7 linked regions of the Homo sapiens genome follow. The protein of the gene in region 7 purifies or fractionates together with the protein of the main gene of each other region. This does not show direct contact. Each region holds a gene or a part of one and is shown on either strand. Other genes may lie near its edges. The genes, in order: SPANXN3, SULT1C4, INF2, FAM174A, DNAI2, PUDP and CCZ1B.

Region 1 (4,186 bases), on a different chromosome or scaffold from region 7:
TCACCCATATTATCCACCGGTTTAAACTCCCCTCTTGCATCCAGTCAGACAACGGGCCAATTTGTTTCACAGTTTAACCAACAGCTGGTAAAGGCTGTAAACATTAAATTGGCTTTGCATATTCCTTACCACCCCGAATCTTCAGGGAAACTTTTTTAGAAAACAGCAACTGACCAATCTTCCCTAAAGGTTAAAATGGCCTGGACTTCACTTCTCCCATTGTTCCTCATGCATTTATGAGTCATTTCCCAAAAGCTCCTCAGCCTAAGCCCATTTAAACTCATGTACAAATGCCCTTTTATCCTCCAGAATCTCCCTGTATTTTCCCCCCATTCTATATGGAATACTTGGCCGGCGTTACACCTCACCCAACATCTAATAAGACAGTACACAAATGCTTACTTGACCCAGCCTAAAAGTCCATCCTCAAAATACTCCGCCCTGTCCCTACAACCAGGGGACTGGGTCTGAATCACAGACTCCTCCTCCTCCCCTTTCCAACCTAAGCGGAAATGTTCCCACCAGGTTATCCTAACTACTCCGACTGGGGCAAAGCTAACATCCTTTCCACACTGAATACACCATTCCAAACTAAAAAGAGCACCAGACCCACATCTAGAAATTTCCTCACCCCCATATTATTCTCCTTCCCCGACAGGACCAACCTCACTGTACTTAACAAGAATTCCAGAAGTTGCCAATCCAGAACACCTTAGTCCATAACACTCTCTGTCTCCAATTTCCAATCTTTTATCTCCTACTTTATTTCAGATCTTTCCTGGCTACCCTTCCCCATGTCCCTGAATAGTCCATGCCAATTCGTCATACTAATCCAGGAGGTATGACTGCAGGGCACCTTCCAAAATTTCACTCCTACTCAAATCTCCTCTTTCTTCTTTTGTCCTCTTTGTCTGTGGGATACTCTAAGTCCCCACCCCCAACCTCTGACAGTTGAGCCCCCTTCATCAGCCTCACACCTTTCCTCTTAAATCAGTCACACTCCCCTCTTCCTTCCAACTGTTAAACTTGTTTGTCCACACAAATCCAGCAATTCACAGCCCTTCCTGTCAACCTGGCCACATGAACTCGGTCCAAAATAAGCCTGCATCTCACCTACTTGACCAGTTCATTCCCAAACCTGTTTATAATCTTGATCAGCTAAACTCTTTTTCCCCCAATCCATCAAATCCACCCACACCATCACATACAGGGCTGTCACCCTCCCTCGCCTCATAGCCTCTTAACTGAATATGTTACAAACGGATTCCATAAAACACCTTTTAGAAACCCCTCCCCTCTTGGCTGGAGCCGCTCTTCATATTATCCAACTCAAGGGCGCTCGCTGGAAAACATGCACAAACAATTCCCTCAAGTGCAACCTATATCCTTCTGCCCTGTCAGGGCTACAATGGCTATTAGTTACAAAAACCCATTTCCCCCTCTCTTTCCAAAACCAAACAGCCTCCATCTCCTCCACCACCAACATTTCCTATCAGGCCGTCAGAGGGGCTACCCTTGCTGGCAGCTATTCAACTTGGAAAAATATAAAAGTTAAAACAAAGAATTTCTGCAGAATTCAACACCCACCTTCTCATGGCTTGCCACCATAACCTACAACTTTTGTCTGTCCACCCCCAGTGTCTTCTTCTTTTGTGCCACAAACTCTTATCTCTGCCTACTGGCCAAATGGTCAGGAACATACACCCTGGTGTTTCAGCCTAAACATTAACATTTTGCCTAACAAGCAGACCATCCAGGTTCCTTTAGTAGCTTCTGTCTCATCTTCCTCCACACACACTAAGCAGGCTCTACATCTCATTCTAGTGTTAGCAGAAGTAAACATCTCTGCTGCAGTCAGCACTGAGATAGCAGGGGGCCCCTTTCTTAGGACCCTTAATTTTCCTCCTCCTAATACTACAATTGGCCCATGTATATTTACCTTCATATCCCGCTTTATCTCCCGAAGGCTAAACTCCCCTGTCCAGGCGGCCACCCAGCAACACATTGATACCATCCTTCTCCTCTGCCAAGTCCAGTACCAGTGCCTCCAGGAAAACAACTCTGAAGTCCAACACCCACTGCTTCAAAACCCAAACCCTGATTACAGCTCCCCTATTCGGCAGGAAGCAGCCAGATAATCAACAATGCCCCTCTTCCTTTTATACTAAAGTAGAAGGCAAGAATGTGAGTCCAAACCACCATTTAGTAAGCACCCTGCTATTTTTCAGACCTTGGTCAAAGTGAAACATTCCACGGGGGTTCGGGCCATGAGAAAAATCTTGCCTAATCGTCGTAACACAAGACGGACAAAGGTCCAACTAAAGAAACTTTCCTATCATATCTTGCTGGGCAAAGTTTCAAGATACACCACAATGACATCCCACTGGAAAAAGGACCAAACAGCCTGATCATAAAAACATCTTATCAATATCCTGCCGGGCAGCAAGCCATACTGCCCAGGCCCCTCCCACCCCTACCTACAAGCACCCCAGCCTGTAAGCAGCGGTGGGCTCTGGCATTAAGCGGGTCCCCCACTTCCACAGGTGTCTGCAGTATTCCTGTGTTGCTGTTTGAGCCACCCCCTCTCTGTGTGTCTTTCTTTCACCCTCACCTTCCCTTCAAAACCTGACAATCTTACCTCATCATTTTTTTTGTTATTGGATTCACAGGGGCTCTTCGTCTTCTCCCCATTGGTGCTGGAAGTTGGCTGTTCCATGATTCTGGTTGGTTGTAGAATGTCTATAGTAGGCTCCTGTAGACTGCAGACTTCCACAGCTATGTTGAAGCTTCCCAGTGGGATGTCCCAGAGCTCTTGCCCTCCCTATATATACCCTCCTGGTGACAAGGCAAAGCCACACCCTTGAGCTTTGTTTGATCATACAGGCAGTGTCCCAGCCAATGGCGGTCCTAAGGTGGCTTTGACATCACAAAGCCCCACTGCTGACCACTCCTTGGGCTTGTGGGGGAGGGGTGACAGGGATGTAGAGGAAACCAAATGCGGTTGTTGTTTCAGCATCCCCTGAAGATGCATCCCAAACCGATCTGCCGCCGCTCCTCATTTCTCCATGTTTAATGTTCATGGTTCACATGGAAGTCAGAGGATGATTCCTTCAAGCCCTTCCCCACAGCCATTCCTATGAAGTGATTCATTCTTTTGTCTTCCAGCCCTCACCATGACTTAGTATTTTAGATGTCTCACCTCAAATCCCCCAAGCTAGTGTGGCTACATTTAATTATTAGTTATTAATTACTAGTTACATTTAATAATTAATAATTAATTATCCCATTTCCCTCCTACAGTTCCTTCATATGCACCTTGAAGACCATTTACTTTTAGGCTACTGCCAGGCAAATTTCAACCCATGTTATTTTACTCAATGTCCGTGTAGTTCTTTTAAATTTCCTATTTCCAATCTGCAATAATGGCCTTCAGTCTGTCAAAATTTTAGTGAATAAACATTCTTTACTGTGTATCCTAGTCTTGTTTCAAATGAGGGGTGTATTTTCATAGTAAATGTAGTCTCCCAACATGAATTCTGCCAGTATGTGGGTGGGGGAAGGAGTGGATATTCAAGTGCTGGAAGTTGTTCTCAGTGTTTACATGCAGGATGCTACAATCTAAGACCCACATGTGCACCAGTATGGGCATAGTTATACTTTGTACTGAAGATTGTGTCCAGTGCAAAAAGAAAAATGCATTCAGTTTGGAAGGGGAGAAGTAAAAGTGTCTTTTGTCAAAGACTACATGAAAGTATATGTAGAAAAGTCAATCTATAAAAAAGCTTCTACAATAATTGAGGTTAGCAAGATTGCAGAGTAAGAGATCAATACACAAATCAATTGTATGTTTATATATTAGAAGAGGCAGTGTTTCAGCTAATGGTAGTCCTAGGGTGGACTGGAAGTTAATTTCAACAAATGAAAGTTGAAACTAAGAACAGTGCAATTTAAAATATCACTAAAAATATTAAAGTCTTAGGGATAAATCTGACCAAAAATGTAAATGACTTGTACACTTAAAACTACAAAAAAATTGCAATGATAAGTTAATGACATCAAAAATCCAGATGTATACTTTGATTTTCGGTTGGAAGATTCAATATTGTAAAGTGGCAGTTATTCCAAATTCATCTGTAAGTTCAACTCAATTCTAATCAAAATTCTAAAAAGGATTTTTAATAGAAAT
Region 2 (3,500 bases), on a different chromosome or scaffold from region 7:
AGATTGAGACCTGGCTAACACGGTGAAACCCCGTCTCTAGTAAAAAATACAAAAAATTAGCCGGGCGTGCTGGCGGGTGCCTATAGTCCCAGCTACGTGGGAGGCTGAGGCAGGCGAATGGTGTGAACCCGGGAGGCGGAGCTTGCAGTGAGCCAGAGATCGCGCCACTGCACTCCAGCCTGGGTGACAGAGTGAGACTCCGTCTCAAAAAATAAATAAAATAAATAAATAAATAAATAAATAAATAAAGTATTATGTTCCTCAGTGCTAATAAAAAAACAAAAACTCTGGGCATGGTAGCTCATGCCTGTAATCCTAGCATTTTAGCAGGCTGAGGAGGGTGGAACACTTGGGATCAGGAGTTCAAAACCAGCCTGGCCAACATGGTGAAACCCGGTTTCTACTAAAAATACAAATAATTAGCTGGCATGGTGGCAGGCGACTGTAATCCCAACTACTCCGGAGGCTGAGGCAGGAGAATCTCTTGAACCCGGGAGGCGGAGCTTGCAGTGACTTGAGATCGCACCATTGCACTCTAGTCTGGGCGACAGAGTGAAACTCCTCCTCTGTCTCAAAAACAAAAACAAAAACAAAAAAAACCCAAAAACCAAAGAAACCAAAATGTGCTAGGATTTTTTTTCCTGCTAAACTGCATTTTAAAATAGACATGCAAGGGAGAAAATGACACCATCCATATTGTGTAATAACCTGCCTGTAAGGGAAATGTGCAGCATCCCTGGGAGCACCAGGAAGCTGCAGGTGAGACTGTGTGATACTTAAACTCATGATCAGCCATGTGCACTTTGACAAATGACAGCTGTAACCAATGAAGTGCAGCAATTTTCGGTTCCCCGCATCAATCTGAGTCCCTGATGGGGTCAATGCATTATGACTTAAATGTTTTATGGTCCAGTGGGTACACCTTAGATGGCACTGTGCTCACCTTCTTCATGTCCTCATAGAAGAGATAGAGAATACGGTGTTTGTCTTTGGCTTCCCACCATCCTTTCACATGTTCATGCCAGGAGCCCCAGCACACTGGAGGATGGGATGGAAAACAGGACAATGAGTCACAGAGGTCCTATTATACCACTGAAAGGAGAATTCCTGAAGAGAAGTGAGAATGTTCCATTAAAGAAGGCAGAGCCCCTGCTGGTCAAAAGAAAAGATTCTTTCCTTCTAGGGTGTTTGGAGATTTTGAGAAACGAAGGGAAACAAAGCTAAATTCTCTCACCTTTCCCAGCCAGAAAAGTCTCAAAATACTCTTCCCATGTTCCTGGAGCAGGAAGAGCTTTATTCATTCTTTGGAAATGGTAATAGGACACCATGTTGTCCTTGGGATTTCTTGCTACATAGATTATCTGGGAATGATGAGGGGAGGGGAAGGGAAGAAGCAAAAAAACAGGAATTTTTTTTTTTTTTTTTTGCTGTTACTGCCCAGGCAAGTCATGTTAGGGTAGATACATTTCATACAGTTCATTTTTTCTGAGGCTGCATTCTTGTCATCCTGGTTATGGGAGACTTTTTTTTTTTTTTTTTTTTTTTTTTTTTGAGATGGAGTCTTGCTCTGTCACCCAGGCTGGAGTGCAATGGCACTATCTTGGCTCACTGCAACCTCTGCCTCCTGTGTTCAAGCGAGTCTCCTGCCTCAGCCTCCTGAGTAGCTTGGATTACAGGCATGTGTCACCACGTCCTGTGAATTTTGTGTTTTTGGTAGAGATGGGGTTTCGCCGTGTTGGTCAGGCTGGTCTTGAACCCCTGACCTCAACTGATCCACCCATCTCAGTCTCCCAAAATGCTGTGATTACAGGCATGAGCCAACGTGCCTGGCTAGGATTCATATTAATTTGCATATTGATTATTGTGAAGAGGTATATATATATATATTTAACAAGTGAAGTGTTTTAAGAGGAAATGGAAGACTAAGGTTGTTTTAAGGAGTACAACTCTGAATTCCTTTTGCTTTTTTACCTTACAGTTTTTCTCTAGCAAGGATGGTGGCAGCAAGTGAAAGGGAAGATGTGTTTTCAGGATCCGTGGTGAGGGCATTGCATGAGCTTGTTCCAAACCTGCAAAACTGGTTTTCGATCAATTTCTACGATTTTTTTTTTATCTATTTGCTTCCAAGTCTTGCTGCTTCCATTATTACTACTACAATTCAAAGCATCTATAAGAACATTGTAACTGTAGATCTGGTGTGAGAGAATACGTCTAGCCTATGAATAGATGTTTTGACTAGAACAATTCCTAACCATAACAGTCATCCAAATAAATAAGAACCTAAAAAATTCAAACCCTTTCACCAGGATTATCTTACTTGAGCTTATTCTTTTGAAGTAAAATTAATTTCTAACTAGAGAAACAAAATTTAACTCACTTTTGTACAAACAGTAATTCCATTAGAAAATGTCTGGAGTATAACAATGGCCAGACACAGTTAAAAAAAGACAAAACCATGAAACTTACCAATAATTGTTTGAAAGCCTATAATTTCGAAAGGTGCAAAGACAGTAAAAATCCTAAGTGCATTTTAGGACTGTAGTGAAGTGTGGCTATTTATACTCACCAGATCCTAAGGATGGGATTTTCATTTCGAGGAAAGGAAATCGTTGATGAGTCGGTGCCCGTTTACTTTTCTCCACATCACCTTCATTTTGTATTAATTCCACTATCTCCTGAGTCCATGTTGTTCCTTACGTGCACGTAAAATGAAGATGAATAGACATCTAGTATAGTACATTCCTTAAAATATGATCAAATACTTGTTAGAACATCTATGTCTTTTGTTTTGTTTTGTTTTGTTTTGTTTTTTGAGACAGGGTCTTGCTCTGTATCAAGGCTGGAGTTCAATGGTGCAATCTTGGCTCACTGCCTCCTGGGTTCAAGCGATCCTCTCGCCTCAGCCTCCTGAGTAGCAGGGGTTACATGCATACACAATCACCCCTGGCTAATTTTTATACTTTTTGTAGAGACGGCATTTTACCATGTTGCCCAGGCTGATCTGGAACTCCTGAGCTCAAGTGATCTGCTTGCAAGTGATCTGCTCGCCTCGGCCTCCTAAAATGCTGGGATTATAGGTGTGAGCCACCATGCCTGGACCATCTATGTGAATTTAAAAGCTAGGTTTTAAATGGGATTCAGAAGATAGCATTCCTTATTTATATCTTATTATCATAATATGATTTTAAAAAAATACTCCAATTTTGAATGGACATTAGACTGATAAATATACATTTATTTTTTTCTGTCACAACTATTAATTTGGATTGTTATTATTGTTCTATTTATTTAGCTGTATTGTCCTTAGAAAGGACATTCTCCCCAAATTGTGATCTGCTATAGAGAAATGACTACATGATTTTCAAACTCTCTTTTTCCCAGTTGCATAGCGTAGGAGACACTTAGTATTTGTTGGCTGAATGAGTGAACCATTAGGGCTTGAACTTGATATTGACCATTAGCACTTAGTATTCAATTTTTCGCCTTTCTCTGTTTCCCCC
Region 3 (3,500 bases), on a different chromosome or scaffold from region 7:
CAGAAGACAAAGATGGGAAGCAGGCCGCATGGTGACGGATTTCAATCACATGGTGGGTGCGATACCACCGGGACACCTGCCCAATCACTAACTGAAGCTGCATCTCGGATGAATATGGTCGTTTCATACTGAGGAAGAAAGCAAGCAAAATGATCAAAAGACAGCAACATCTCACAGAGGGAAGCTGGGCTCAGAGCGGTGGTAGCCCCTGCTTGGGTCACCCAGAGAGCAGAGCTGGGGGCCAGGGGTCCTTCATGGCACTCTGGCAAGTGTCGGTGGAGGTGGCTGGGGGGTCCGGGCTGGCCAGCACTGAACGCCAGGGGACACCACTGGCCCGGGAGCCAGGCTACAGCTGGGCTCTCTGTGTCCCCAGGATCTGGGGCAGACAATGGGCCTGGGGAAGGTACATCTTCCTGGGTTAGGAACAGAGCCCTGTGGAAGCCACAGGGAGGAGGGTGACTCTGTAGGGGGGGTAGGGGGATGCAGCAAACAGGAAATGCCCCGGCTCACTGGGAGGAGGGGTCACTGGGAGGAGAGTCGGCAAGCGCAGCCCAGGCAAGGGAGGACAGGAAGGGCGGAGGCCCCACGCCAGGAAGCCCAGCTCTCGCTTCCACCTGCACTGAGGGTGTGCAGGGCCTGGGTGGGTGGGCGGCTCGCCAGTCACCGAATGGGCCTTCTACAGGCCACAGTGTCTCCACTGCACAAACAGCAGGGCCAACGGGGTGCTCCCTGAGGGCCTGGTCACCTCTGGCGTTCTCAGGGGTCTGGGCTGGAGTCTGGGGGCCCAGGGAGAGGCATGGGGGGACGAGCGGCTACATGGAAGTACTTCCTGGGCCTGAGGGCCTGCCAGCACCTACCATGGCTGTGGCTGGGAGTGACGTGTACAGATCTGTGGTTAGGGACTGGGAAGGGCACAGGGCCTGATCAGGCCCTGCAGGTGGCATGAGCCCAGGGCTGGCCTATCGCAGGCCCCAGACGTACCCTGCAGGGGGTCTGCTGGGCAATGAGGGCAGGTGGCCAGGAGCTCGTCACCAGAATCCTCCCACCTGGGTTTCCTCCCCCCGGACCAGACATACTCAGAGATGCCTCCTCCGAGGCCCCAGGTCCCTCCTCTGTCCTCAGAAAAAGCCTCTCTCAACCTGGGAGGGGGAAGGGCAGCAGCTCATTGGAGCCAGGCCCCGGCTTCAGGGTTCAGGTCCTGATTGCTGTGTGCCTAGCTGGGCCCCAGGGTGTCCAGCCCCCACCCTGCCTGTGCCAAGACAAGACGGCTGCCCGCTGCCTGCCCACGAGCCAGGCTCCATGGTCCCTGCCCCCAGCCTACATCCCCGCTAGCAGCTGCCTTCCCAGGAGCAGGGAGAACAAAGACAGATTGAGAGTGGGGGAGAGGCTGAGCCTGCGCACCCAGCACGGCCAGGGGCTGCTACCAGGGCCCAGGGTGGGGGACGGCTCTGATTCAGGGTGAGACTGGGCTCTTCCGCTGACCGGCCTGTGACCCATAGGATCTCCTGGTTCCTGTCCTCAAATGCGGATGAGTGTGTCAATGCCACCCCCACAGCTTACTGACAGATTGACGAGATGCCACCTGTAATGCCAGTGCATAACCACGCACTGACCGCCCGCCTTCCCACTCAGCCCACCTCCTGTTTGGCGGCTGGGACGGAGCTAGGACGTTGCATGAATCTTCCCAGCCCCTGCTCAGCGTCTCTTGACCTCTGCTCCAGGCAGCCAGTGCCAGGGAGCCCGTCAGGCCCAACTGGGCAAACAAGATCCTCAGCGTGGGTGCAACATGCCGCTTGGCAATGCTTGCTGGGACACGAGGGTGCCAGGGGCCTGGGACAGCCAGGCCCATTCTGGACTCAGTTTTCTCATCTGTAAAATGGCCAGGATGTTCTCCAGGGCCCCGTAGCTCTGACCTGGGTTGGCTGTGCCAGCACCGCCCGTGTGGCCCCTCCTGGGTCCGGCCCATGGCTCTGCCAGCTCCTGCAGGCAGCCCCTCACTGTTGGGCCTGCACCTCCACAGCCTGGCCTGGCCCAGGGAAGGGGCAGCCGGGGGGGCCCTCTGCACATGGAAGCATAGGCAGGGGCCCTGGGTGTCCCCAAGGGGCTCCCGTTCTCAGGCCACTCATGTCTGTGCACAAGGTGGAAGCAGAGGCAGGTGGGGACAGGTGGCTACTCCCTCACCCCCACCCTGTGTCCTCCTCCCAGCGTAGGCTGGGTGCAGGCGACAGTCTGAGCTGTGCCTGGAGCAGGAACAGGGACCCGGGGGCACAGAGGGTGGGGCAGGCAGGCTGTACACCGAGGCCATGTCCCAGGGCCTGCAAGGACCCAGGTACAGATGGGGAGATGGAGGCCAGTGGGATGCTGGCCCTCCTCGCACAGCTGGCCACGTCCACCCCCGACCCGGCGAGGGCCAGGACAGCTCAGGCACGAACAAACCCCTGCACCACTGGCCATGCCCACTGGGACTCCATGCGTGTTGGGCAGCTGGCCACTCGCTGGGCAGAGCGAGGGGCTGGGGCTGGCCTCTGCCCACAGCAGCTGAATGGGGGCTTGGAGATGATACAGAAAAGCCACTACCCGGGGCTGGTGTGCTCAGCGGCCACTGCTTCCCTCTCCCTCCCTCCTCAACTGTGCCCTGGGTTAGCCTCAAAGCTAGGCTTTGACACTAGCCCTCGTCTGCAAAATGGGAAGCAGACAGCCTGCCCTCCGCCCCCAGTGTGGCTCCTGGTTGAGTTCTGGCCCACCAAGGGCTGCCTGGGGGCCTCTGCCTTCACTGTGAGGTGGGCCCGGGGCAGAGCCCTGTAACAGTAGGACAGCCCTCCAATCCACCCCACTCCCTCTCCCCCACCCCACCTCTCCCACTTTGGACCTTGGGGTGCTCAGACTGTGTCCAGGTCACAGGAAGCAGGTGGGGTGGTATAACGCTGTCACAGCACGGGAGCACAGGGTCCCTGCCCAGGGCACCAGGGCCAGGGGCCTTGGCAGCATCTTCCCATGTCCCTCTGACCCTGCAAAGGCCTTGATCGGCGGCCAGGAGCCTGGCCAGGCCTCCAGTGGTGCCCATCTGCTCCTTCTGGGTCTCCATGCCATTTCCAACAGACAGAGGTTGGGGCTGAGGGAGATGGAGGGTGCCCCAGCCACGGCCAGTCACCCTTCTGGGGTGAGAACAGGAGTGAACTGAGGGCACAGAGGCTCGGGGCAGCCCAGGCTGGCCCTTCTCTCAGGACTCTCCTGGTACCTCTCTCTCCCTCCCTGCTGCCTCTGGGAAAAGCTGCAGGCGAAAGAGGAAAGCAGCCTTGGCCCTTGCCCTTGGCCATTGGCGTGGCAAGGTCCTCAGGGCCTTCACGCTAGTCATCCCATCTGGGCTGTGACCACACTGGTCATTCCACCCAGGCTGTGACCCAGGCCGACTGGCTGGGAGGGCTCCGGGGTCCAGGCTGGCCCTTGGGCAGTTGTCTGTCTGCATGGGCTGCTCTGGAGTGACACAGGTGGTTGCCTGG
Region 4 (3,434 bases), on a different chromosome or scaffold from region 7:
TGAAGATGCTGCTATTTTATTGAAAAAGACTTGAGAGCCATCAAGTGCAAAACAGTAAGTTCTGCTGGAGGAAACTGTTTCAAGATGTTGCACATGACTTCACAGGATTTACAATAGAGCCAATCAAGGAAATCATGAAAGAAACTGTGGATATTGCAAAAAAAAAAAATCGGTAATAAAAGATGTCAAGATGAGGATCTTGGAGTAATTCAAGAGCTAACTGACATTACAATGGAACAATGAACAGAAAATGACTTGATGGAGATGAGTGCTTCTGAACCAGTGCCACATGATAAGGAAGAAGATGTAGAAGAAGCTGTACCAGAAAACAAATTGGCAGTAGTCAATGTGGCAGAAGAATTCCAATTATTCAAGACTGCTTTCAACTTCTTTTATGACATGGACCTTTCTATGATATGGACACTAAAACTAAAGCAAGCTGTGGAAGAAGAATTGGTACCAATAGAAACAGTTTTAGAGAAATCAAAAGGCAAAAATCTCAGATGTGTTTCTGTAAAGTTACACCAAGTGTGCCTGCCTCCCCTTCCACCTGCTTCAACTCTTCTGCCTCTACCACCCCTGAGACAGCAAGATCGGCCCCTCCTTCCTCCTTCTCTTCAGCCTACTCAACGTGAAGACAAGGATGAAGACCTTTATGAGATCTACTTTCACTTAATGAACAGTAAATATATTTTCTCTTCCTTATGATTTTCTTAGTAACATTTTCTTTTCTTTAGCATGCTTTGTTGTAAGAATAGAGTATATAATACATATAACATACAAAATACATGTTAATTGACTGTTCATGATATTAGTAAGTCTTCCAGTTAACAGCAGGTTATTAGTAGTTAAGTTTTTGGGGAGTCCAAAAATTACACGTGGATTTTTGACTGTGTAGTTGGTGCCCCTAGCCCCCATGTTATTCAAGAGCCAACAACAGTTATTCATTTCTATGGTTCCTATAAATACAGTTATTTGTTCCTATTTCTAACCTTCAGAAATGAGGATTACTAAAGCTACAAGCTACTAGGTATAATCTATAAAACAATCAATGCTTTGGAAATTTATAATACGGTAACAAAAATTATCCATACTAAAGACAAGATTTCCAATAAACACTACAATGGGGCAAGTTTGCCCATTTACTCTCTTATTGCCTAACTAGTTTATTATAATATAAAACTATATTTTGACATACAAATTTTTATAGATTTTAATTCTAATTATACAACTTTACTACTACTTAATTTAAATCCTGCCTTCCAAAAATATTTCTGCTAGTAAGAGCCATCGTAATGAAAAGCATTTGATCAAACCAAATTAAAAAAAAAAACAAAATGTGCATATTTTACAAACTTAATAAATCTTCCTTTATAATCATCAATAACATTTAGAACTTCATTGGAAAAACATCTGAAAATGAATAATGCTCTTTTTCATCTTATCTGAATCTTTAGTCAGCAGTCTGTAATAGTTCTCTAAATGATTAGTATAAGATAATGAGGTTCTAATATATTTTTACTTTGAAAGTAAATTTAATCCTTTAAAAAATATACTGAAGGTTATTAAAAAAAAACATGTAACACTTAGAATTCTTTTGTACAGCCCTTGTCCTTTTAACGCTTGAAACCCATGATAATACTGATAATGAATTTGTAGACTATGAAAAAAAGTCAATCTGTAAAATCAAAATTGCAGTTTCATAAACTAGGAGAACACAAAATTACTAGAACCTAATCCAAATTCTATCACTAAATAGCCTTTTGAACTTGACTATATATGAGACCCTGAGGAATATCTAAAAGATTTTTTTCAAATAGAAAATTACCTACCACATAAAGAGTCTCTTAAGATATGGTTTCAGAAAGGCGTTTTGAGACTCGTAATTAACCTCAAAACATATGCAAATTAGCATAACTATTATGATCTAGCAATCATATTACATTGTGCCCAACATTTCCTTGAACCTGTTTATATTTATAAGACTGTATGACCAGCTCTCTCATTTAGAGTATTTCATTCCTTGAGTGGGAATTTCCTCAGAATTCTATTCTGGATGTTTTCATGCTGTTCAGGGGCTACTGTAGGAACCACCACTCCCCACTCCCTCCCTGGCATGACTCAACCACGACCAAATGTAATATTGAAGAAGGCATTCTTATTTATATGCCCAATTGGAATTATTTTTAACTTATCAAGAATTAAGCCAATTCTCTTCCAGCCTTAAGCATGGTCTTCCAGCCTTAAGCGAGGTCTTGAATTCCAGACCTCAAGTGATCCGCCCACCTTGGCCTCCCAAAGTGTTGGGATCACAGGCATGAGCCACCATGCTGGGCCTTCATAGGCTCTTATTTGATTAACTTATATCTTTAAAAAAATAACTTTAACTCAATTGCCACCTACTCAGTGAAATCCATGTTGCTATCCCTCAGTTGCTCTTTCTCAGGAATTCCACAGCAGTCTGAAAAAAGTGGAGAATCAATATGGTATGAGAAAAGTAGCTAAGGATTCCTACTCTCTGGAGAGGTGATATAGAAGTTGTAGAAGGTAGACTGGTTGACTCAAAAAAAATGCCGCAGGCCTTGTGCAGTGGCTCACGCCTGTAATCCCTGCACTTTGGGAGGCCCGGGTGAGTGAATCACCTGCAGTCAGGAGTTCGAGACCAGCCTGGCCAACATGGTGAAACCCCGCCTCTACTAAAAATACAGAAAATTAGCCTGGCATGGTGGCAGGCACCTGTAATCCCAGCTACTTGGGAGGCTGAAGCAGAAGAATCGCTTGAACCCGGGAGGCAGAGGTTGCAGTGAGCTGAGATCACGCCATTGTAGTCCAGCCTGGGCAACGAGAGCCAAAATCTATCTCAAAACAAACAAACAAACAACAAAAACAAACAAACAAACAAACTCTGCAACAGAACCAGGAGTACACGGTATAATCTTAGTGGGTCTGTTAACAGGACGCTCTTTTGGCAAGAATGGCAGGGATAGAGGCTGTGCTCCAAAACCAAGCAGGACAAGCTATCCCTCAGCTGTGGCCAGCAAAGATAGAAGACTGCAAGTGTGATGGTTAATACTGAGTGTCAACTTGATTGGACTGAAGGATACAAAGTATTGATCCTGGGTATGTCTGTAAGGGTGCTACCAAAGGAGATTAACATTTGAGTCAGTGGACTCAGAGCGGCAGATCCACTCTTAATCTGGGGTGGCACAATCTAATCAGCGCCAGCATGGCTAGAATATACGCGGCAGAAAAATGTGAGAGACTGGCCTAGCCTCCCAGCCTACATCTTTCTCCTGTGCTGGATGCTTCCTGTCGTCGAATATCGGACTCCAAGTTCTTCAGTTTTGGAACTCGGACCTGCTTTCCTTGCTCCTCAGCCTGCACATGGCTTATTGTGGGACCTTGTGATCGTGTGAGTTAATACTTAGTAAATT
Region 5 (3,151 bases), on a different chromosome or scaffold from region 7:
GATTACAGGCGTGAGCCACGAAACCTGACCAACACATTTTTCAAGGGCATTTTTCAAGGGCACTTTGGGTCCCTGCCAAGGTCACCTGCCATCCACAGGATGATGATGGTCAGGGCATTGTTCCTTGTGCAAGGTTGGCACTGAAGTGCCCTCTCGACCTCCCAATGTCTCTGGTAATGGTCACTGACTGCTCTGTTGAGCTGCGGTTTCAGGGCACCCCCAGGGCAGCCCACTTCCCACCCTGGAGTCCCCGAGAGGCCTGCACAGCACCTGGCCCACAGTTGATGACCGTGCAGGGTCAGGAATGAGCTGCCTGGGCTCCCGTCCCCGCTGTGCCCCGTCACGAGTTCTGAGACTTGGGCACGTCCCTGTACCGCTCCTGGAACCTCCTGTGTAGTATAAAGGTGATGGGAGCACACAGTTCCAGGGATGTCGTGAATGAGTTACACGAGATAACGTGACAGGCTCTGGGTGCAGGATGCATCACACGTACTAACTCGTGGCATTGTTACGATTCATTTAATTTTACAAGAATTAGGATAACAGAAAGCATTCAGGTGCAGCAGAACAGCCAAGCTCGTCCCGCCCGTCCCCTCCCACATACTTGGAGGCTCCTGTCGTGGCAATGTGTCCAAATGGTCAGGGAGCTGCCTGGAAAGGTATTTTCAAAGTGGACAGACTTTCTGTTCCTGATTTGTAGGTGGACGAGGAGGGTCGATCATGGAGGAGAAACCCTTCCCCACTCCTGAAGGTCTTCCCGAGGCCCTGCCATGGCCATGCAAGTCTGGTTGAGGGTCTGCAAGGTTACAAACGAAAATGATTGCTGGGGAGCCTGTGAGAAGCTGAATCCCAGGAGACATCCAGGACTAGGACTAAGGTGGCCTCGGCCTTGGGGTGGGCTCAGGGTGGCTGAGACAATGGGGCAGCCAGCTCCGGGACAAGCCCCGCCCCTTCCCTCTCTCCAAGGGGTGGCTCAGGACTCAGTGCCCAGTGAGTCAGTGGGGGCTAGTGATTTGTAGGGGCTGGGGAGTCAGGGCCCGATGCTCCCAGCCCACCACCCAGTGCTGCTTTAAGGCGGAGCTCAGCCTCCCACTTGTGAGAGCGGGGCAATACCAAGAGGTGGGAAAGGAAGGCACACAGGGATAGCGCCGCAGTCGAAGGCTGACTTCTAGGCTAAGTCTTCTTCCACTTCTTCATCCCCTTCTTCCCCCGCTGCTTCCTCTCCCTCCTCCACCACCTGGTCTTCTTCTGGACTTGGTTGCTGCTGCAGGGGAAGACAGCACAGAAGTGTTGGTGTTGGTAGGGGACAGGCCTTCCCCACTCCCCTGGGATGTGAACCCCACGAGGACCAAAGCAGCCAAATGGCTGAAGCCTGGGTCGCTGAGCACCCTGGAACCCGGGTGCCAGCTCTGCGGCTGGTGAGGGCCCAGACAGTGCGGAAAGTGGGCAGAGCTGGGGGAATCTGGCAGACTTGGGTTCACGCCTGGCTTCTGCCACATGCAGACTGGGAGGCCTCGGGCTAGCTCCTCCTGAGTCTCCTTGGCCCCCTCACCCATAGAGAGGACAGGACACCTTGCAGGGCTGTGGCCAGGATTAGAAATAGTGGGCATAAGGACCCAGCCTATGTAAAACAGCTTCAGTACCACGCGGTACTTTGTGACCACCAGCGTTTTGGGCCAATTGCAGACTAAGAGAGAGACAGGAAGTGTGTGGCAGGCAGGAGGAGGAAGGGGCCAAGTTCTGTGAACCTGAACCCCTTCCAAGGCTCAACTTCTTCATGTAGAATGTTCAAGCCATGGTGAGGAGCACGTTTTGGGACATATGTCACAAAGCATGGTGCCTACCAGCCACCATTGCGTTGTAAAAGGTGGCCAGTGTCATCTTTGCCTTCTGCAGGGCTGGATAGGCCAGGAGTGGTGAGTGGGAGGAGCCCTGGATTAGGCGTCAGAATCCAGGATTCTAGTTTTGCCTCCACCAGAAGTGGAGGGAGCTCTCTGCCCCACCTGTATTACCCAGTGTGAGAAGAAAACATCTCATAACCAAGTACCCCCAAATGCAAAATGCACCTGTGGAAATCACAGCTTTAGACCCAGGGGGAGGGAGGCAGAAGAGGGAAGAAATCACAAGATGGAACCAGTTATCTTCCCTGTGTGCTCATGCACCATCCTTCGCTCTGTCCACTCTATCAGGGACCAAGAACTTGCCATACAGCTCTTCTTCAAGCAGGCGTCATGGGTGGGTGCTCTGTGCAGATACACTGGACCCTGTCTCAGCAGGGCCCACGCTTGGTTTAACGCTCTATTGTCACTGTTTTAAAATTATTAATACTTTTTAAACGAGGGCCCTCACATTTTCATTTTGCAGTGCCTGCAATCCCCAAGTCTGCAGCCAGTCTTGCCTACAAGGGTAAATCCTGGCATATACCCGCTGTTTCTTTTCCCTTCCACGCTGCTCTTTGGCTCTTTCATATCTTGGCATCTTATCTGTGGGGCCTGAAGGAGGTGACCCAGACAGGCAATGTCTTTTCTTCCTCTCTCCGCTGGTACAAAAGAGGGCCTGGAAGATGACCAGACACCATCTTTATAGCAACATCTCCTCATTTTCCAGATGGAAATGAAGGAAGCCAGAAGTGAAGCGACCAGCTCAGGTGATACAGCTAGAAAGTGCTTTAGAGCTGGGGCCATGGGCAGATGAGCTGACCACAGGTCACACTCCTGACACCAAACCTGGGTAAGCCAGCATGACGTGCACACCGCTAATGTCCCAGCCCTTCCCTCCAGGGGTCTCAAGGCCCATTCCTCTCTGACAGCTCACTTACCTCTAGGACCCTCGTTCAGTCACTCAACACACATGTTCCCTCGTTCAGTCACTCAACACGCATTTTCACCATGTGCCCTCTCTGGGGGGAGGGGAGGATACCAGGAGGCATGGAGTATGGTTCCTGCCTGTAAGGAGCCTGAAGTCTGTTTGGAGACTTGGGATGCTTTGGAAGGAAGGGAATAATTCTTCCCACTTGCCAGGTGAATAAATTAAGATCTAGCAGGTAAGACTACTTGCTCAAGGTCACCCAGGAAGTCGGCAAGCAGAAGCAGAACCCAAGTGCCATGTGTCCCGCCCAGTCCCCAACCCACCCAACCCCTGTCCAGGCCCC
Region 6 (3,500 bases), on a different chromosome or scaffold from region 7:
CCTACTTTGTCAATTGTTACACAAAACAATCAACAGACTCATTTTTTCCGAACACCTACAGTCATTCAGGATAAGGTAACAGATATCTGGAGCACCTGACCCTCTAAAGATTTTTAAAAGGAAGGCATGGACAGATCATAATGTAGTTCCAGGACAAAGTTAAATAAAGCAAATGAAATCAAGCAAAATCTAGCACTCCACTGGGTGTAGAATTCATAGTGTCTAACATTCAATCAAAAATTACCATGCTGCAAAGAAGCAAATACCACCCACAATCAGGAGAAATAGACACAGAAATGATAGAGACAGATGGAATTAGCAGATCATGACCTTATGTAACGGCTTTATAAGTATTATAAACACACCTAAGATAGACACTATCAGAATAAAAAAGAAAAACAAAAGACCCAACTACATGTTGTCTACAGAAACCTACTTTAAATATAACTACACAGATAGATTGAAGATAAAAGGATAGAAAACTACATACCACATAACTATTGCTCAAAAGAGAGCCAGGTTACTTACATTAATAACAAACAAGCCTTTAGAACAATGAATGACTATCATCAGGGATAAATAGGGACATTTCATAATGACAAATAGATCAGTTCATCAATAAGACATAATTCTAAATGTGTAAACATCAAATAGCAGAGCTTCAGAATGCATAAAGCAAAAACCAATAGAACTGAATGGAGAAACACAAACGTAGAAGGAAGTTTAAAACTCCTCTATCAGTAATTGATAAAACAAGTAGACAGAAAAGAAGTAAGGACACAGCAGACTTCAGAACCACTGTCAAGCAACCTGACCTAATTGACGTTTATGTAATACTTCTCCCAACAACAGCAGAAACCACATTATTTTTAAGTGCACGTGGAACATTCAACAAGAAATATCCTATTATAAGGATAAAACTATTCTCAAAAATTATAAAATACTTAAAATCATACAGAATACCTTATCTAACGATGGTAGAATTAAAATAGACATTAATAATAGGAATGTGGAAAATCACAAATATTTGGATGTTACACTTCTATGTAAGACATGGGTCAAAGATGAAATCACAAAGGGAAACTAGGTAATATTTTGTAGAGAACTAAAAACTACCAAAATTTCTGGGATGTGGCTAAAACATTGCTTCGATGAAAACTGATGGCATTGAGTGATATGTTAAATAATAAGGTCTCAAATAAGTGATCTAAGTTGCCACATTGAAAACCTGAAAGAAAGAAGTTCAATGATTTAAGCTTTTACCTTAAGAAAGTGAAGGAAAAGAGCAAATTAAACCCAAAACAAATAAAAGGAAGGAAATAATAAACATGAGAGAGAAAATCAATGAAATAAAAGTAGAATACAGAAAACCAACTAAATCAAAAGCGAGTTGTTTGAGAAGAGCAATTAAATTAGTAGACTCCTAGCTAAACTGATCAAAAAAATAAAGAAGATCCAAATGTACTAACATTAGCAGGGAAAGAGGGGACAGACATCACTACAGATTCTAACATCGATAAAATGATAAAAACTTAATTATTATAGGATTAATGGCAACACATTTGACCATTTAGATGAAATGAGATAATTCTTTGAAAGATATAAAACTCCCTCAAGAAGACACAAATAACCTGAATAGCCTTCTGCCTATGAAAGGAATTGAATTTGTAATTAAAAACCTCCTTCCCACATCTAGGATCAAATGGCCTTGCTGGTAAATTTACCAACTTCCCAAGAAAAAAAGGATGCCAATTCTAAACAGACTTTTCAGGAAATTGGAGGGAACACCTCTCAACTCATTTTACATTTTACATCAGCACTTCCCTGATCCCAAAACCAGACAAAAGCCAGACAAGAAAACGACAGATCTCATGAACATACATACACATACCTCCACGCATAAAAACAATATTCAATCAGTGTAGAAGTACTCCACCTAAAGAGCTTCTACAGAACTTGAATCCATTAGTTAAAAATACTAAAATGCCACACTATTTCATTAGTTTGCAACAACCACTGATTAGTATCACAGAGGACTATATTTATTAGCTAAATTTCAATTTAAACCTTAACCTAACTGATGGATGAGATAAAAGGCTCTAATTTTTTTAAAAAAGAGACAGTCACGTGTGGCAGTGCGTCCTGTAACCCGTTACTTGGGAGGCAGAGGCAGGAGAATCGCTTGAACCTAGGAAGTGGAGGTTGCAGTGAGCCGACATAGCGCCACTGCACTCCAGCCTGGGTGACAGAGCCAGACTCCATCTCAAAAAAAAAAAAAAAAAATTAGCCAATCATGAACTTCTGTCTGGATATAAACAGTGATTAAAGCTGAGTATCAAAACAATCTGAATTTAAAACAAGATTTTTAAATTGCTAGATCACACAATTTTAAACCAATATTTTAAAAAATGGAGCACACTTAAACACATGGCTCTGTAAAACACACTGTATAAAAATTTTCTTAAAGTACTTTGGTGCTATTAATTTTAAAAACTTAAACAGATTATTTTATTATTATTGTTTTGAGACAGGATCTTGCTCTGTGACCCAGGCTGGAGCAGAGTCAAACAATCATAGCAGCCTTGACCTCCTGGGCTCAAAACGATTCTCCAGCCTCAGCCTCCCGAATAGCTGGGACTACAGGTGCATGTCACCATGCCTGGTAAATTTTTTTATGTTTTGTAGAGACAGGGTCTCCCTATGTTAGCTAAGCTAGTCTTGAAGTTCTGCTTCAAGTAATCCTCTTGCCTCGGCCTCTCAAAGCCCTGGGCTTAGAGATGTGAGCCACTGTACCCGGCCGATTATTTTATTTTAGCTTATCCTTCTTGCATTTCTATTGCTGTGAATTATTTCTAAGGTGGAGTAGATAAACAAACACACACCAATGTGTCTAGACTGGAATGCAGCTCAACATTCTTATTGATGGAGAATGAATCAAAAACGGTTTTGGACGACTGCTTTACACCACCACAACATACTGAGATCTCCAAAATGCTTGGGACTCCTATGAAGATGAAAGCCAAGACAAGACTATGACCACAGTCAGAGATTACGGGACATCCGTCAATTATACGCCCTCTTTGGGCCTCAATTTTGTCATCTGTCAAAGAGCAATGATTAACGTTCCTCATGGAATTAATTCACAAGAAGAACAATGCCTGGAAAATGACATGGGTGAGGAAGCCCCAGATAAATGTTAGGTAGTGTCGTTATCATCAGATATAGCTCCAGTGTATCATCAGGAATGAACGATCCTAATCACCTGATTCAAAACTGCCTGATGCCTTCACAAAGTTTTTCATCTTTTAAAGAGTGCACACAAACTTTGTCTCACTCAGTGGCTTTCCCTGAGAAGTAAAAGACGAAAAAATGCAAATGGAGTTCTGTTCTAGGGAGAAGCTGGTTAATTATGTGTATAAATGAACTCCAGTTCCCAGCTCCTAGAATTTGGTGTGCTTCCGTGGGTTTACAGGAAGGGCAGAGAGACAGATATCTAGGTA
Region 7 (4,219 bases):
TCCCACAATAGTTGCGTGCTGAAAAAAAGTGTTTGCGTTCTTTTTTTTTTTTTTTTTTTTTGAGATGGAGTCTCGCTCTGTTGTCCAGGCTGGAGCGCAGTGGTACAATCCTGGCTCACTGCAACATTTGCGTCCCCGGTTCAAGCGATTCTCCTGCCTCAGCCTCCTGAGAAGCCGGGATGACAGGTGTGCGCCACCATCCCTGGCCAGTTTTTGTAGTTTTAGTAGAGACAGGGTTCCGCCATATTGGCCAGGCTGGTCTCGAACCCCTGACCTCAAGTAATCTGCCTGCCTTGACCTCCCAAAGTACTAGGATTACAGGTGTGAGCCACTGTTCCCAGCCAGAAGTGTTTAAACTCTAATTTGTCAATCAGTAAGCCTTACTTTAGGAGGGCTTTCAATATAGATGAAGAGTAGAAGGTATTAGTGAGATTGGGTGCATATACATTTTAAAAAGATTGTGCTCATGTAAATGATAAACATAAACCTTTGCTATATACCCCGAGAAACTTCTGCAAAAGCCTCCTAGTTTAAATCCGACCAAGTAAGGCATTCAACATACTCAGCAATACATTTAAAAAAATAAATAAATAAACAAACAATGACACATTACCAACAACTCCTCCTCTTGATATTCAATAACTGGTTTTCCATCTTTACTCTGTTTTTCAATTATAGGATTCCGAACAACCTACAAAGTTTGATAAACTGAAATTATACAATGAATTCATTAGACCATGTTTATTTTGCCTTAATTTAAAAACTTTGAACATGCTACAGCACCAGAAACACAACTTCTTAAAACAGCCCCAAGAATGAATAAAGCAAATAGGAAGAACTTGATTTTAAAATTGCAACCAATTTTATTTTAATTTTACTTGGATGCAACAGCCAGAGAACTTTCCTAAATTCTGAACAGTAAAGATCACCCATAACTTCACCATACAATTTCAGAAAGATACACTGTGTGTGTAAATACCATGACCATCCAGAAATTTTCTTCTGGTTCATTGAAGAACTGTCTGTTCTTCTGTGTATGTAAAGATTTTGCAGGTTTTGATGGGCTAAATGTCCTACAAAGGTTAAAAAAATATGTTTGGGACAATTCTCCAGCAGCAGTTTTAAGAATTCACTGAACGCTAAAGGCACACTTAGAGGTATTACCTTGTAAACTGTACAATAGCTTCACACAATCCGACATTTCTAATCTTCTCATTCTTTTCTACCTCATTTGGATGATAAAATAAAATCTTATTTTCCTCCTGAAACATGAGGAAACAGAAGCACAACATGAATAGAAACATTTCATCTTAGCTATTGAAAACGCTAAGTTCAATGTCGACCTCTTGTGTCACACATGCTAATGACAAAATAAAACAAAAACCGGTTTTAGAAAAACAGGAATTGTAATCCTAGTATTTTCAGAGGCTGAGGCGGGAGGATCACTTGAGCTCAGGAGTTCAAGACCAGCATGGGCAACACAGTGAGACGTCTCTATTATTTAAAATAAGAAGAAGAACAGGAATGATCTCATCATTGTGCAAATACTGCCCACCAGTCAGAAAGGCAATTTCGATAGTCAAGAAGTCACATCTGAAGTAGCACCAGGTAATTTTTATGAAAACTCAAGTCTCCAGGTTTCTTTCCTAGTGCTAATTTGTAATACACCAATGCTTGTAAGAAGTAAAGGTGTGCCCATCTGCAGACACATAGCTCCCTGAAAATTAAATCCAGTCAGTTCCCAGCCATTTGAACTGACAAGTTGTTTTTTTTTTCTTTTTCTGGAGATGGGGTCTGTGCTGCCCAGGCTGTAGTGCAGTGGCGCTATTACAGCTCACCTGCAGCCTCAATCACTTGGGCTCAAGCGATCCTCTGGCCTCAGCCTCCTGAGTAACTGGAAATACAGGTGCGTGCCACCACGCCCGGCTCACTTTTCAATTTTTTTTTTTTTTTTGTAGAGTTGGGGGTCTTGCTATGTTGCCCAGGCTGGTCTGGAACCCCTGGCCTCAAGCAATCCTCCCATCTCGGCCTCCTAAAGTGCTGGGATTACAGGCGTGAGTCACAGCGCCCAGCCTGGACAGTCTTTAACAGAAGTCTGACTTGCTGGAAACAAAACACAGCTCCGGACATCCTTTGAGAAAGTCGCCGTCCCCACCTCAGAAAAACCACACACACACACACACACACACCCCTCCCGAAATTAATTTATTTCCTCATTTGGGCGAAAACTATTACAGGGACCTCCAGGCTTGCATCATTTGAAGGCTAGCGTCTGCCACCCTGGTTCCACGCTTCTAGTTGGGGACTACCCACTTAACAAAGCCAAGTTCAATTTTAATTTCCCAGAACTGACGCAAAGCAAAGCGCAAAGAGCCTCAACCTGGGGTGTGGAGTGATATAGACCCGACGGGGCTTTATTCCATCGACCTAGGACCTGAAGCGGTCCCTGCCTGCTGTCAGGTCCCCGCCGCAGCCCCCTGCCCGGACTCGCACCTGGCACAATGCAGGCTAGGTCAGTGCCCCTCGAGGTGGGCAGAACCACAGGGCCACCTTCCCGGGGAACACCGGCGCCGCCCGCCCGCGCGCCGCCCCCTCCGCATACCTGTCCTTCGCGCGGCCCGAAGCGCGGGTTGTAGATGAAGAAACTCAGCAGCGCCGGCGGGAACTGCTTCTCCTGGGCCGCCCAGGGCCCGCTCCCGGCCCCGGCCGCCGCTGCAGCCATCCCGCCCCGGCCCCCACCTCGGGAGCCTCCCACGGCCCGCCCAGAGACAGCAGCCACCGGCTAAAACACCGCACTTCCGCCTCCGTCGCCACCGCCCCGGAAGCACTCGCCGCAGGCCCGGAAAAAGAATCCGCCTCGCAGCGTCCTCTTCAGGCACCCCCGGGTGGCCTTGTTGTCTGTTTCCTGGCCGAGTTTGTGTTTTGCTGGCTCGCGGAGTTTTCTCCTGGCTACAGGCGAGGGCTGCGCGTTTCAGGAAAAACCGAGCGGGCACTGTTTTTTTGTTGTTGTTGTTTTTTCTGATAGGGTCTCAGTTTGTCATCCAGGCTGGAGTGTAGTGGCGCGATCTCAGCTCACTGCAGCCTCAACGTCCGACACTCAAGCAATCCCCCTGCCTCAGCCTCCCAAGTAGCTAGGATTACAGGCGCGCGCCACCAAGGCCAGTTTTATTTTTTTGTAGAGGTGGGGTCTGTGTTGCCCAGGCTGCTCTCGAACTCCTGGCCTCAAATGGTCTCCCACTTCGGCCTCCCAAAGTGCTCCGATTACAGGCGTGAGACACCACCGCCCAGCCTGTTGTTGTTTTGGTGGTATTGTTTTAAATTTAATTTAGAGACAAGATCTCGCTTTGTCACCCAGGTTGGAGTGCAGTGGTGCCATCATAGCTCACTGCAGCCTCAACTCCTGGGCTCAAGGGATCTTCCCACCTCAGCCTGAGGAGTAGCTGAGACCACAGGCATGCACTACCATGCCCAGATAATTAAAAAATAGATAGATAGATAGTAGAGACAGGGTCTCACTTTGTTGCCCCGGCTGCTCTCTAACTCTTGGCATCAAGGGATCCTCCTGCCTCTGCTACTGGATGGAAGGTCTTGACCGTGGATTGCCCAGGTTCTTGGCTTGTTGAACACAGAACTGAACAAAATGCAATGCACAAAGTAACAAAAGAACAAAGCAACGAAAAGAAACAAAAGAAAAAACCGGAGTAAGGAATAGACAGATTTATTGAAGCGAAAGTACAACTCACAGAGCAGGAGCAAGACAGAGCAAACAGCTCAAGAGCCCCCATTAGGATTTTCATTAAGCTGGAAGAATTAGGTAACGCCCCTAGGTGCCCGTTAGAGGTCTCCGATTGGTTACACCCTCTGAAGGATTGGCCTGTGACCAATCAGAGGCTGAAGTGGAGACGCGCACCCGCCCCCCCGTCAATCAGAAGCTGTCACCCTCCCCCCCGGCCAACCCCCTGTCGTCCGTCAATCAGCCTCTGATTGAGGGAATGAACACGTGGCCTCTATGCTGCCTAATCTTGCCTAGAACTGGCTGCACCTGCTGTTCTTTTGTTTATGCCTTAACCCTTGGTTACCCTCATTCCCTATTCTGCCTCACCTGCCCTCCGAAAGTGCTGGGATTACAGATGTGAGCCACCCACACCAGGCCCATTGTTTTGTTTTTAGTTTATTTAAAAAGTATTTTATTCTAAGACAGCACTTTGCTCTGTTGCCC

What was found.
Region 1: the proteins of CCZ1B (region 7) and SPANXN3 purify together in Homo sapiens (co-immunoprecipitation; one large-scale study listed by IntAct). This does not show direct contact.
Region 2: the proteins of CCZ1B (region 7) and SULT1C4 purify together in Homo sapiens (co-immunoprecipitation; one large-scale study listed by IntAct). This does not show direct contact.
Region 3: the proteins of CCZ1B (region 7) and INF2 purify together in Homo sapiens (co-immunoprecipitation; one large-scale study listed by IntAct). This does not show direct contact.
Region 4: the proteins of CCZ1B (region 7) and FAM174A purify together in Homo sapiens (co-immunoprecipitation; one large-scale study listed by IntAct). This does not show direct contact.
Region 5: the proteins of CCZ1B (region 7) and DNAI2 purify together in Homo sapiens (co-immunoprecipitation; one large-scale study listed by IntAct). This does not show direct contact.
Region 6: the proteins of CCZ1B (region 7) and PUDP purify together in Homo sapiens (co-immunoprecipitation; one large-scale study listed by IntAct). This does not show direct contact.

Annotation. Positions count from the first base shown.
Region 1 is NC_000023.11:143,514,676-143,518,861, forward strand, and holds the start of SPANXN3 (sperm protein associated with the nucleus on the X chromosome N3), read right to left. Parts: upstream 2,801-4,186; 5' UTR 2,717-2,800; coding exon 2,639-2,716; intron 2,220-2,638; exon of another isoform or gene 2,015-2,219; coding exon of another isoform or gene 1,940-2,014; intron 1-1,939.
Region 2 is NC_000002.12:108,380,954-108,384,453, reverse strand, and holds part of SULT1C4 (sulfotransferase 1C4), read right to left. Parts: intron 2,743-3,500; exon of another isoform or gene 2,693-2,742; coding exon 2,567-2,692; intron 2,070-2,566; coding exon 1,972-2,069; intron 1,362-1,971; coding exon 1,235-1,361; intron 1,039-1,234; coding exon 944-1,038; intron 1-943. UniProt on the Homo sapiens protein: Sulfotransferase that utilizes 3'-phospho-5'-adenylyl sulfate (PAPS) as sulfonate donor to catalyze the sulfate conjugation of phenolic compounds.
Region 3 is NC_000014.9:104,692,618-104,696,117, reverse strand, and holds part of INF2 (inverted formin-2), read right to left. Parts: intron 1-3,500.
Region 4 is NC_000005.10:100,580,374-100,583,807, reverse strand, and holds part of FAM174A (membrane protein FAM174A precursor), read right to left. Parts: intron 2,462-3,434; coding exon of another isoform or gene 2,443-2,461; exon of another isoform or gene 2,404-2,442; intron 1-2,403.
Region 5 is NC_000017.11:74,312,234-74,315,384, reverse strand, and holds the end of DNAI2 (dynein axonemal intermediate chain 2), read right to left. Parts: intron 2,731-3,151; exon of another isoform or gene 2,557-2,730; coding exon of another isoform or gene 2,425-2,556; exon of another isoform or gene 1,845-2,424; intron 1,265-1,844; coding exon 1,169-1,264; 3' UTR 1,114-1,168; intron 797-1,113; 3' UTR 501-796; downstream 1-500. UniProt on the Homo sapiens protein: Part of the dynein complex of respiratory cilia.
Region 6 is NC_000023.11:7,078,654-7,082,153, forward strand, and holds part of PUDP (pseudouridine-5'-phosphatase), read right to left. Parts: intron 1-3,500. UniProt on the Homo sapiens protein: Dephosphorylates pseudouridine 5'-phosphate, a potential intermediate in rRNA degradation. Pseudouridine is then excreted intact in urine.
Region 7 is NC_000007.14:6,823,476-6,827,694, forward strand, and holds the start of CCZ1B (vacuolar fusion protein CCZ1 homolog B), read right to left. Parts: upstream 2,801-4,219; 5' UTR 2,723-2,800; coding exon 2,603-2,722; intron 1,263-2,602; coding exon 1,165-1,262; intron 1,074-1,164; coding exon 980-1,073; intron 692-979; coding exon 614-691; intron 1-613.